Linked DNA regions of Homo sapiens: region 1 is linked to region 2. A link means that fine-mapping ties the variant in region 2 to the expression of a gene that starts in the linked region. Tissue or cell type: thyroid. Region 2 holds a variant in brackets; the other region holds the start of a gene. All regions are shown on one strand. Distances are between the middles of the regions. Region 1 holds the start of C2CD4C (C2 calcium dependent domain containing 4C). Region 2 holds the start of LOC124904606 (a long non-coding RNA gene).

What was found. PIP is the estimated chance that this variant, and not a neighbour inherited with it, causes the effect. A credible set is the group of variants that fine-mapping cannot tell apart.
Region 1: it holds the start of C2CD4C, and the variant in region 2 is the best candidate, but not a certain one, in a credible set for the expression of C2CD4C in thyroid (GTEx, PIP 0.54).

Annotation. Positions count from the first base shown.
Region 1 is chr19:406,340-411,704 of GRCh38, forward strand. C2CD4C (C2 calcium dependent domain containing 4C) reads right to left here and starts at 2,808. Exons shown (of 2, transcript NM_001136263.2): 1 at 2,667-2,808; 2 at 1-2,062. The coding sequence starts at 2,022. The coding sequence ends at 757. It overlaps LOC124904607 (proline-rich proteoglycan 2-like), which reads right to left. Exons shown (of 2, transcript XM_047439790.1): 2 at 3,183-5,221. The coding sequence starts at 5,117. The coding sequence ends at 3,954. RefSeq lists enhancers at 1-670, 671-1,551.
Region 2 is chr19:382,457-387,821 of GRCh38, forward strand. LOC124904606 (a long non-coding RNA gene) reads left to right here and starts at 94. Exons shown (of 3, transcript XR_007067071.1): 1 at 94-125; 2 at 162-2,273; 3 at 2,668-4,225. RefSeq lists enhancers at 277-376, 537-606, 1,352-1,878, 1,687-1,886, 1,879-2,405 and 4 more. The variant A/G (reference allele first, on the strand shown) is at 2,694.

The sequences.
Region 1 (5,365 bases), 24 kb after region 2:
CTGTACCCAAAAAGCCAGCGGCGACAGTGTTGGAGGAAAACAGGCCAGGAGAGCCGTCTCCTCCCCGCGGACCTCTGCCAAGACCTCCTCTGCTCCGACTGTGGCAGCGGCTGCTCCCTCCGCGCCCACCCTCGTCAGGGCACCCTCGCCTGGCCCCACTCCCCACCGGAGCCTGGGAAGCTGGGGTCTCCCAGAGCCAAGCCTGACCCCTGGGAGGGGGCGTCCCGGGCAGAGCCTGGGCCTGGTGTGGCCGCGAGGCCCTGCTCTCCGCGGGGTGGGAACTGGATGGCGGCAGGCTGTGGGGGAGGAAGACACACGTGCAGTGAAGGAGACTGTGGGCTCCAAGACTTGTCACCTCCCTGTCCACGGCCCCGCCCTGGCCACATGCACGGATTCCTGAACCCCTGAGAACCTCCTTCTAGAACTCTGCGTGAAAGGCGCGAGGCAGTGTGGAGGGGCAAAGGGGGACCCTCTGCCCCGCGAAGTGGCCCCTTCTCTTCCCCCGAGGCCCCTCTCCTCCTCCTCCTCCTCCTCCAAAGGAGAAATTAATTCATGAAAAATAATACTCCAGTCAGCATCGGGTGACCCAGGAAACCCTGCGTCAGCTACAGCATCAGCGCCCAGCCCAGCCTGAGTGTGAGCCCCTCCCCGGCCAGCCCCAGCCCAAGCCAGCGGACCCGCCCGCCAGCACCCGGTGTGGAGGAGAGACCGGGGTCTGCCCTCTGCACCCGAGCGGACAGCGAGCAGGTCCCCGCTCTACAGGAAGGGGAGCAGGGAGGTCAGGGGCAGCTCCTTCTCCCCGAGCAGCGTGTCCCGCTTGAGGCTGCTGCCCTTGTTCACCACCTTGATCCTGAGGGCCAGTTTCCGGACGCTGGCGGGCCCCAGGCCGTCGAAGAAGAAATCCTCGTTGAAGACGGGGCGGCGGCTGTTCTTCACGATGGTGCTGCGCTGCTTCTGCAGCTTGCCCGGCACCAGGCACAGGCCCACGCAGCAGTTGATGCTGCGGGCGTCGCACAGGCGGTCGTAGAGGCCCTCGGCGGCCAGCAGGTGCACCCGCAGGCGGGCCTGGCCGGCCTCGTACTCGGCCAGCAGCCGCACGCTGCCCCGAGGGCCCACGTGGACCGTGTGCTCCCCACGCGCCTGGCCCGACTCGGGGCCAGGTTCCGGGGGTGCCCGGCGGGTCAGGCGGCGCCGGCTCCCGGGGCTGGCGTCCGGGGTGCTGTCGTCCGCAGACAGGGAGCCGTGGCGGCCCACGGAGTGCCGGAGCTGGCTCACCTTGGCCTGGCTGTCCTGGGCGAAACCTTTGAGCAGAGACACGGAGCGGGACAGCAGAGGGGACCCGAAGGGGGAGGACTCGGCCGAGGACCCTGTGTCGCTCTCCCCGCCACTGAAGTAGCGGCCGGGGCTCATGAGGGCCCCGCCAGCCTCCCTGGGGCCCCCATCACCCCCGTTGGCCTTGGCAGCTGCCCGGCGGCGCCCGGCCCCTGGGGAGCCCACCTGGGCCAGAGCCCCGTGCTCACTGTGGAACAGAGACTCCTTGCGCCTCGTGTGGGGGCTCTCAGCCAGCATGGCGAAGCCGTAGGACGTCTGGGCCTTGGGCACCGAGGGCAGGGACATGGCACCCTGGGCCTGGGGGTCGGCGTCAGTGGCCTCCTCGGACAGCCAGTCCTCGGCACTCTCGATCTGGATCACGTGCCGGGTGGCTGCCTTCAGCAGGCTCTTGCTCTCGGCTGCCAGCTTGGCAGGCAGCCGGGGGCTCCGTGGGGTCTGGCGGGGGGCCGCAGAGGCCAGGTTCTGTTCCGACGTGGAGGGGCCCAGCGCGGCCTGTCCCTCGCCCTCCGCGGGGCCCGAGGGCAGCTTGGGGGGGATGAAAAAGTCGGGGATCTTGTCGGGCGTCAACACATTGCTGTACAGGGGCCCCTTGGAGGCCTTGTCCCCCGCCTCACTCCCCACGCCCCGGGCAGCACCGTTTTCCCCAGACCCCCGAAGCCGCTCCAAGAACCACATGTTGGTTTTTCTCATGGGGGCGGCAGGCAAGAGGCCCGGACAGGGGCTGCAGCGTCTGGGAAGAGAAGCAGGGGTCAGGAGCAGTGGGGGGCGGCTGGCAGAGGGCCCTGGGCACCTGCTCCCTGTGGGGCCTCCCGGCAGGGCCCTGCCGGCGGGGTGGGGGTGGAGGGGTCCCCTGGGGGCGTCCCGCCCAGGCGCGGCGGCCCAGGACAGGAGTGAGGCGGGTTCCCCCCACCTTTTTCCGGAGAGATCCCGCTTAACTTCCCAGCACCAAGCCCAGGGGCGTGGGGGCCGCGCTCTGACTCTCCGGGGAGCTCCCAGAGGAGACTGGCCCCTCGCCCGCCCCCACTCTGGTTTTGAGCATCTCAGCGCTCATTCCAAAGGGTTCCGCGCTCAGTCCCAGGGGAAGACACGGATGTGGGTGGACCCCCGGGGTGTCCCAGCTCCGCCCCCCCGGCTCCCACCCACCTGTGGCTCCTCCCTGGACCGGAGGGCCAGGCGTTCGGGGTGGGGGAAGGGAGGGGCGGTAGGTCTGGGGCCGAGAGAGCAGCGAGTCGACTCCCCGGTGTCCCCCCGCCCCCAGCCCTCCCCGACTCCGCTTGGGGTGGGGGGTGGGGTCCCGGCGGTCCCCGCAGACCGGGCGGGGTCCCCGGACTTACCTGCCCGGGGTGATGGCCCGAGGCCGGAGGTCTGTTCGCAGACACGCAGGGGTCTCGGCGCGCAGGCTCCCGGGGCTGGCGCGGGGGACGCGGCCGGAGCTTCGATGCGGGCGGCGGCGGCGGCGGCAGCGCAGTCGGACTCATTCACCCGCGGCGGGAAACCGCCCAGCCCCGCCGCCGCCGCCGCCGTATTCCTCCGAGTACGGCCGCCCGCGCCCGCGCCCGCGCCCCCGCCCCCGCGGGAAGGGGGTGGGGCCGTCTCCCCGCAGCCCCCGGAGGCTGGTGGCAGGGAGGAGCCTCGCCAGGGCCCGGGGGCTGACTGGGGGCCGGTGGGAGACAAGCAGGTGGTCACGGTTGGCTGACGGCCACCCCCGGCGCTCACGCCCGCAGATTCCGGGAAGTCGGACTCCCAAGCCCCTGCCTCCGTATACCGGAAGAGGGTCCCAGACCCCCTACTCGCTGCCGGCGAGGAGCTTTCCCGACTAACGACGACGAATTAAATGACGGCAACAGTAATAAATGCAGCTGGGTTTATGATGGAGCGTTTCCTCCCTGCCAGCCTCCCAGCGTCCTGGCGGGTCTCTGACTCTCACACAACCCAGTACGCAGGTCCTACTGCAATTCTCAATCTGTAGATGAGGAAGGTGGGGGGTTTCCTTCCAGAAACAAGGACCGAACAGCTAGGACAGCAGGTCTTACTAAATGGGCAACCTCTCAGCAGCCCTACAAGAAGCCTGGAAGGGGGGGGCTCCTTCATTTCATGGACAAACGTTTCCTGAGCACCCGCTTGATGCTGGACAGTGACCTGGCCACCGGGGACACAGCTGGGACGGAGGGAGGTGGCCCCAGCCCTGGTGATGCAGGGGCAGGATGCCCACAGAGCGTACAGGTGCAGCTTAGAACTGCAGGGGTGGTGACGCCCGGAACAGGAATACAGCAGGAAAGCGTGAGGGTCGGGGCGAAGAGAGAAGGCACATGCGTGTGATTCACGGATGGAGAAACCCATAGGGGGCAAGACCAGGTCCAAACCCAGGCTTCCTGGCAGTTCCTGAGACCACAGGGTCCCCCCCTCCTGAGGCCCCGACCCCCCTCCTGCCAGCTGCTTCGTGATCTGCCAGCCCCGGCCTTCACTGCTTCCTTCTCTCCCTCCCTCCCTGCCCTCCCCGCCTCAGTTTCCTCTTCTGGAACCGAGCTGAGCAGTTCCCAGCCTCCTCGTGCTTGGAGCCAGCAAGATAACATATCCCCAGGACCAACCCGGAGCCGGCGGACGCCTGGCGCTTTATTGAATTATTGATTGTCCAGGAGCCTCCTGCATTCTGGGAATGTCCCCAAGTCTGGATGTGGCCCAAGCTGGGAGGAGCGGCTGCTGCCACAGTGGTAGAAGAGGGGTCCAGGAGGGCGAGAGAGCTGGGCTGAGGCCTCCCCACTCTCCACGTACCCTTGCAATAAGGGGTTAGAGTCCTGCCGTCCAGAGGGGAAAGTGAAACCCGGAGGAGCTGTGACCCCATCTAAGCTTTGCTCACCCAGCAAACGTTGATGAGCCCTCATTTTTGTGCTGGGGCAACCGCGACGCAGCCCCGAAGTCTGACAAGGAGGCAGACACCGAGGAATTCTCCCCTTCACCGCCGCCGCCTCCAGGAAGCCTGGGCAGGCCCCACCACAGACTAGCAGGGCCCCCGAACCCCAGCTCCAGCTGCCATGCAGAATACCCTTGGGCTGCTGTCCACCACCCCTGCTGGGCCTGAGGCGGGAGGAGGGTCCTGGGGGTCTGTCCACTGCCCCTGCTGGGCCCGGATCCTGGGGATCTGTCCACCGCCCCTGCTGGGCACGGATCCTGGGGGTCTGTCCACCGTCACTGCTGGGCCCGGATCCTGGGGGTCTGTCCACCGCCCCTGCTGGGCCCGGATCCTGGGGGTCTGTCCACCGCCCCTGCTGGGCCCGGATCCTGGGGGTCTGTCCACCGCCCCTGCTGGGCCCGGATCCTGGGGGTCTGTCCACCGCCCCTGCTGGGCCCGGATCCTGGGGGTCTGTCCACCGCCCCTGCTGGGCCCGGATCCTGGGGGTCTGTCCACCGCCCCTGCTGGGCACGGATCCTGGGGGTCTGTCCACCGCCCCTGCTGGGCCCGGATCCTGGGGGTCTGTCCACCGCCCCTGCTGGGCCCGGATCCTGGGGGTCTGTCCACCGCCCCTGCTGGGCCCGGATCCTGGGGGTCTGTCCACCGTCTCTGCTGGGCCCGGATCCTGGGGGTCTGTCCACCGCCCCTGCTGGGCCCGGATCCTGGGGGTCTGTCCACCGTCTCTGCTGGGCCCGGATCCTGGGGGTCTGTCCACCGTCTCTGCTGGGCCCGAGCCGGGAGGAGGGTCCTGGAGGTCCTGTCCCTGTAGTGGCCCCAAGGCACAGGCCAGCCATGTCTCCAGTAAACATTTGCCAAACAAATGGGTGAATAGCATCGCCACGATGGCCCCGAAACAGTGCTCTTTCAGCAGGCCCGAGGAGAGGGGGCCTCAGGGGCCACAGAGCCACCCTCCTCCATTGCAGACAAGGACAGCAGGGCCTGGGGAGGGAAGCGGACAGCTTGGGTCCTAGGAAGGGGCAGTGACGGGTCTCCTGACATCAGGCCAGCCCCAGGTATTGGGGGTTCGCTCTCCGGCACCCCTGCCCAGCCCAGGTGGGGGCAGAGCCTCTCCTGCCAGCTGGG
Region 2 (5,365 bases):
GCAGATGTAGGAGGTGGAGCAGAACCGTGGTGATGAGCAGATGTAGGAGGTGGAGCAGAATCGTGGTGATGAGCAGATGTAGGAGGTGGAGCAGAACCGTGGTGATTGATGAGCAGATGTAGGAGGTGGAGCAGAACCGTGGTGATGAGCAGATGTAGGAGGTGGAGCAGAACCGTGGTGATGAGCAGATGTAGGAGGTGGGGCAGAACCGTGGTGATGAGCTGATGTAGGAGGTGGAGCAGAACCGTGGTGATTCATAAGCAGATGTATTAGGTGTTGCTGTTGCTGGGGCTGTGGCAGGAAGTGGTTGATCACATTCCTATTCTCCAGTTGGGTAATGAGCTCATGGTTGAATCGTGAATGGGTAAATGAATGGGTGGATGGAAATAATTATGGTTCACCTAATTTTATGCCCCTAAGGTCCTTGCAAAAGAAAACGGAGGGAGGAGAGAGAGGAGAAAGGGGAAGAAGTCGCATTCAAATTCACTCTCGCCAGTCTCTAAAATGGCAGATTCGTTTTGAAACAACTCCAGATTAAGCCTACAGAGGGAAGGCATGGCTGATTCTGCTGAGCACCTATTACAGCTTCAGCAGCATACCTCGTTTCGGTCCACAACAGCTGTGTAAGATTGTGACGGAGCTGGAAAGTTCCTGTTGCCTAGTGAGGTCATGTCCTAGCGCAGAACGCAGAATCACGAAGAGTGACGAATGCCCGCCGTCAACTGCTGGCCGGGCTGCGTGTCATGCAGCAACGCACAACGGAAGCACACCCTTCTCCTGTTCCCAGTGGTCAGAGCCACCCAAGTCGGGGGTGTGGGCCCCCAGCACTTCTACTTCAGGATGGAGACCCCCTGCTGCCTGGCTCCCTCCCCAGGCCCGCCAGGCTAGTCCCCTCCCCTGTCCCTCTCTCAGGCCTGCTCTCATAGCCACGCGGGCCTTTCTGCTGCACACGCCAGCTCAGTTCGGGGCTCAGTAACCCCCTCCCAATTCAGGGGCATGACTCCTTCCAGATTCTCCTTAAATATCACCTCCTCCAAAAAGCCTTCCCCAATCACCTCGTCTAAAGTAGGGCCCCCTCATTTTTCTACCTAAATCTATGGGGAGTTTGTTTGCTTAGTTGCATGTATCATGATCTTGCTTTGTGTTGACTTTTTACATATTTATTGTCTTTTTATCTCATTAGCATATGTGCTCCAATAGGGTGGAGACTGTGATTTATCTTGTTCATGCCTGGACTTCCAGCAGCATTCAGAACAGAACTTCTTTCTTTCTTTCTTTCTTTTGAGATGGAGTTTCGCTCGTGTTGCCCAGGCTGGAGTGCAGTGGTGCGACCTCGGCTCGCCGCAACCTCCGCCTCTTGGGTTCAAGCATTTCTCCTACTTCAGCCTCCGGAGTAGCTGGGATTACAGGCGCGCGCCACCACGCCTGGCTAATTGTATTTTTAGTAGAGTTGGGGTTTCTCCGTGTTGGTCAGGCTGGTCTCGAACTCCCGTCCTCAAGTGATCCGCCCGCCTCGGCCTCCCAAAGTGCAGAAGAGAATTCCAGGAAGCCTCGAGAGTGAGTGACGGCCCGCGGCCCCCGGCGAGGAGGCAGCAATACCACAGGCGACCACCAGCTGCCGCCGCAGTCAAGGGCAGTTGGTCTCCCCTCGCCAGGATTAACCCTGGACCGAGGGCTCCCGAACCGAATCGTCCCCACAGCCTGTCCTGCGAGGGCGGCTTTCCCCATTACCACCCTCGTTTCACCAAGGAGAAAACGAGCTCAGAGAGGCAGTGCATTGGCCCGGGATTGCACCGGGCGCGAACCCACGTCAGCTCCCGCAGAACCTAGATCATTCGCTGCCACCTCCCTCCGGGCCTGCTCTCGCAGTGTTGGGTGGGAACAGAACAGCCTTGGTCGTGGCTGAGGAGAAATCCCACAGATGTCACTGGACGAGGGTGACGGGTGGGGCCGGGCTTTCCCCTGGGTACAGGCACAACCGTGCTCTTCCCTCGCACAGTGACCCGCGGTGTCATCCACAATTCACAGCCTGTTTCCCAGAGGAGGGGCTCGGAGCGGTGCCCTCCAGGTGCCGCCAGCAACACAAGGCCCAGACTACAGAACACCAAATACTGTGATGAGAAATTACTTCCCTTTTCCTTCAGGGCCAGTCCTGGCTACCCCAAGGGGAAAGTCGCAGCTTGGTGCAAATGAAAGTTCAACTGTCCCCAGCATTGTCAATGGTTTTTACAGAGAGAGAGCAGGCCCAAGCCTGGGGCAGAGCATAGGAGCTGGTTAGTAACCTTGTTTTGTTCTCACTGCTGTTTGTTTGCATGCCTTTCTGGCTTTGTTTGTGTTGTTGTTTTGAAATAATTGCGAACTTTCAAGAAAAGTAGTATCATTTTGAAAGAAAGCTCCCTGGAACTGATGAAGTGGGAGGGAGGTGGGGGCAGAAGGCGCCTGGTGAGCTGTGACTGAGAGGGAGGTGGGGGCAGAAGGCGCCTGGTGAGCTGTGACCGGGAGGGAGGTGGGGGCAGAAGGCGCCTGGTGAGCTGTGACTGGGAGGGAGGTGGGGGCAGAAGGCGCCTGGTGAGCTGTGACTGGGAGGGAGGTGGGGGCAGAAGGTTTCTTTGTGTCACTGAGGTCACGTCGGCAAACATAGTTATCGTTATCCTCCTATTTGCCTAGGGAAAGCACCAGGATGTTTAATGCCT[A/G]CAGTCCAAAATTGGTTGGTGGAAGTACCTACTGTCAGTCCCATCAGTAGATTCACTTATCACATGGTAAGCGGGATGTCACTCAGGCCACGGGTAAATTATTTACAAGACTTTTCTTATCAAAGATCATTAAAATTTAGACCTATAGGGAAACCTTGCCCCAAGGAAATTCCCAAAGGATCAAAAAATACAGAAGTTTTAGTTTGGAAAGAATGTGTGGCCAATAGTGCGGTGATATTACAAAACAATGAATTCGGAACTATTATAGATTGGGCACCTCGAGTCAATTCTACCACAGTTGCTCAGGACAAACTCGGTCGTGTCCAAGTGCACAAGTGAGTCCAGCTGTTGATAGCGACTTAACAGAAACTCTAGACAAACATAAGCATAAAAAATTACAGTCTTTCTACCCTTGGGTATGGGGAGAAAAAGGAATCTCTACCCCAAGACCAAAAATAATAAGTCCTGTTTCTGGTCCTGAACATCCAGAATTATGGAGGCTTACTGTGGCCTCACACCACATTAGAATTTGGTCTGGAAATCAAACTTTAGAAACAAGAGATTGTAAGCCATTTTATACTATCCACCTAAATTCCAGTCCAACGGTTCCTTTACAAAGTTGCGTAAAGCCCCCCCTTATATGCTAGTTGTAGGAAATATAGTTATTAAACCAGACTCTCAAACTATAACCTGTGAAAACTGCAGATTGTTTACTTGCATTGATTTGACTTTTAATTGGCAACACCGTATTCTGCTGGGGAGGGCAAGAGAGGGCGTGTGGGTCCCCGTGTCCACGGACTGACCGCAGGAGGCCTTGCCATCCGTCCGTATTTTGACTGAAGTATTAAAAGGCGTTTTAAATAGATCCAAAAGATTCATTTTTACTTTAATTGCAGTGATTATGGGATTAATTGCAGTCACAGCTACGGCTGCTGTAGCAGGAGTTGCATTGCACTCTTCTGTTCAGTCGGTAAACTTTTAATGATTGGCAAAAAAATTCTACAAGATTATGGAATTCACAATCTAGTATTGATCAAAAATTGGCAAATCAAATAATGATCTTAGACAACCTGTCATTTGGATGGGAGACAGGCTCATGAGCTTAGAACATTATTTCCAGTTACAGTGTGACTGGAATACGTCAGACTTTTGTATTACACCCCAAATTTATAATGAGTCTGAGCATCACTAGGACATAGTTAGACGCCATCTACAGGGAAGAGAAGATAATCTCACTTTAGACATTTCCAAATTGAAAGAACAAATTTTCGAAGCATCAAAAGCCCATTTAAATTTGGTGCCAGGAATGGAGGCAATCGCAGGAGTGGCTGATGGCCTCGCAAATCTTAACCCTGTCGCTTGGGTTACGACCATCGGAAGTTCTATGATTATAAATCTCATATTAATCCTTGTGTGCCTGTTTTGTCTGTTGTTAGTCTGCAGGTGTACCCAACAGCTCCGAAGAGACAGCGACCATCGAGAACGGGCCATGATGACGATGGCGGTTTTGTCGAAAAGAAAAGGGGGAAATGTGGGGAAAAGCAAGAGAGATCAGATTGTTACTGTGTCTGTGTAGAAAGAAGTAGACATGGGAGACTCCATTTTGTTCTGTACTAAGAAAAATTCTTCTGCCTTGAGATTCGGTGACCCCACCCCCAACCCCGTGCTCTCTGAAACATGTGCTGTGTCCACTCAGGGTTGAATGGATTAAGGGCGGTGCGAGACGTGCTTTGTTAAACAGATGCTTGAAGGCAGCATGCTCGTTAAGAGTCATCACCACTCCCTAACCTCAAGTACCCAGGGACACAAACACTGCGGAAGGCCGCAGGGTCCTCTGCCTAGGAAAGCCAGGTATTGTCCAAGGTTTCTCCCCATGTGACAGTCTGAAATATGGCCTCGTGGGAACGGAAAGACCTGACCGTCCCCCAGCCCGACACCCGTAAAGGGTCTGTGCTGAGGAGGATTAGTAAAAGGAAGGAATGCCTCTTGCAGTTGAGACAAGAGGAAGGCATCTGTCTCCTGCCCCTCCCTGGGCAATGGAATGTCTCGGTATAAAACCCGATTGTACGTTCCATCTACTGAGATAGGGAAAAACCGCCTTAGGGCTGGAGGTGGGACCTGCGGGCAGCAATACTGCTTTGTAAAGCATTGAGATGTTTATGTGGATGCATATCTAAAAGCACAGCACTTAATCCTTTACCTTGTCTATGATGCAAAGACCTTTGTTCACGTGTTTGTCTGCTGACCCTCTCCCCACTATTGTCTTGTGACCCTGACACATCCCCCTCTTCAAGAAACACGCACGAATGATCAATAAATACTAAGGGAACTCAGAGGCTGGCGGGATCCTCCATATGCTGAACGCTGGTTCCCCGGGTCCCCTTATTTCTTTCTCTATACTTTGTCTCTGTGTCTTTTTCTTTTCCAAGTCTCTTGTTCCACCTAACGAGAAACACCCACAGGTATGGAGGGGCAACCCACCCCTTCACAGGTCAAATTGGCTTTAAGGTCCCAGTAAGAACTCTGTGTGTCCTTCACCTGGTCACCCGCTGTGAACGACCTGCCGCCCTGTGTTATCCTCCTGTCGGTTTTTTCCTGAACATTTGAAGCTAAGTTGTAGATGTCATGCACCTCCACCCCTAAAAATTTCAGTATTTATGTATTTCTTTATT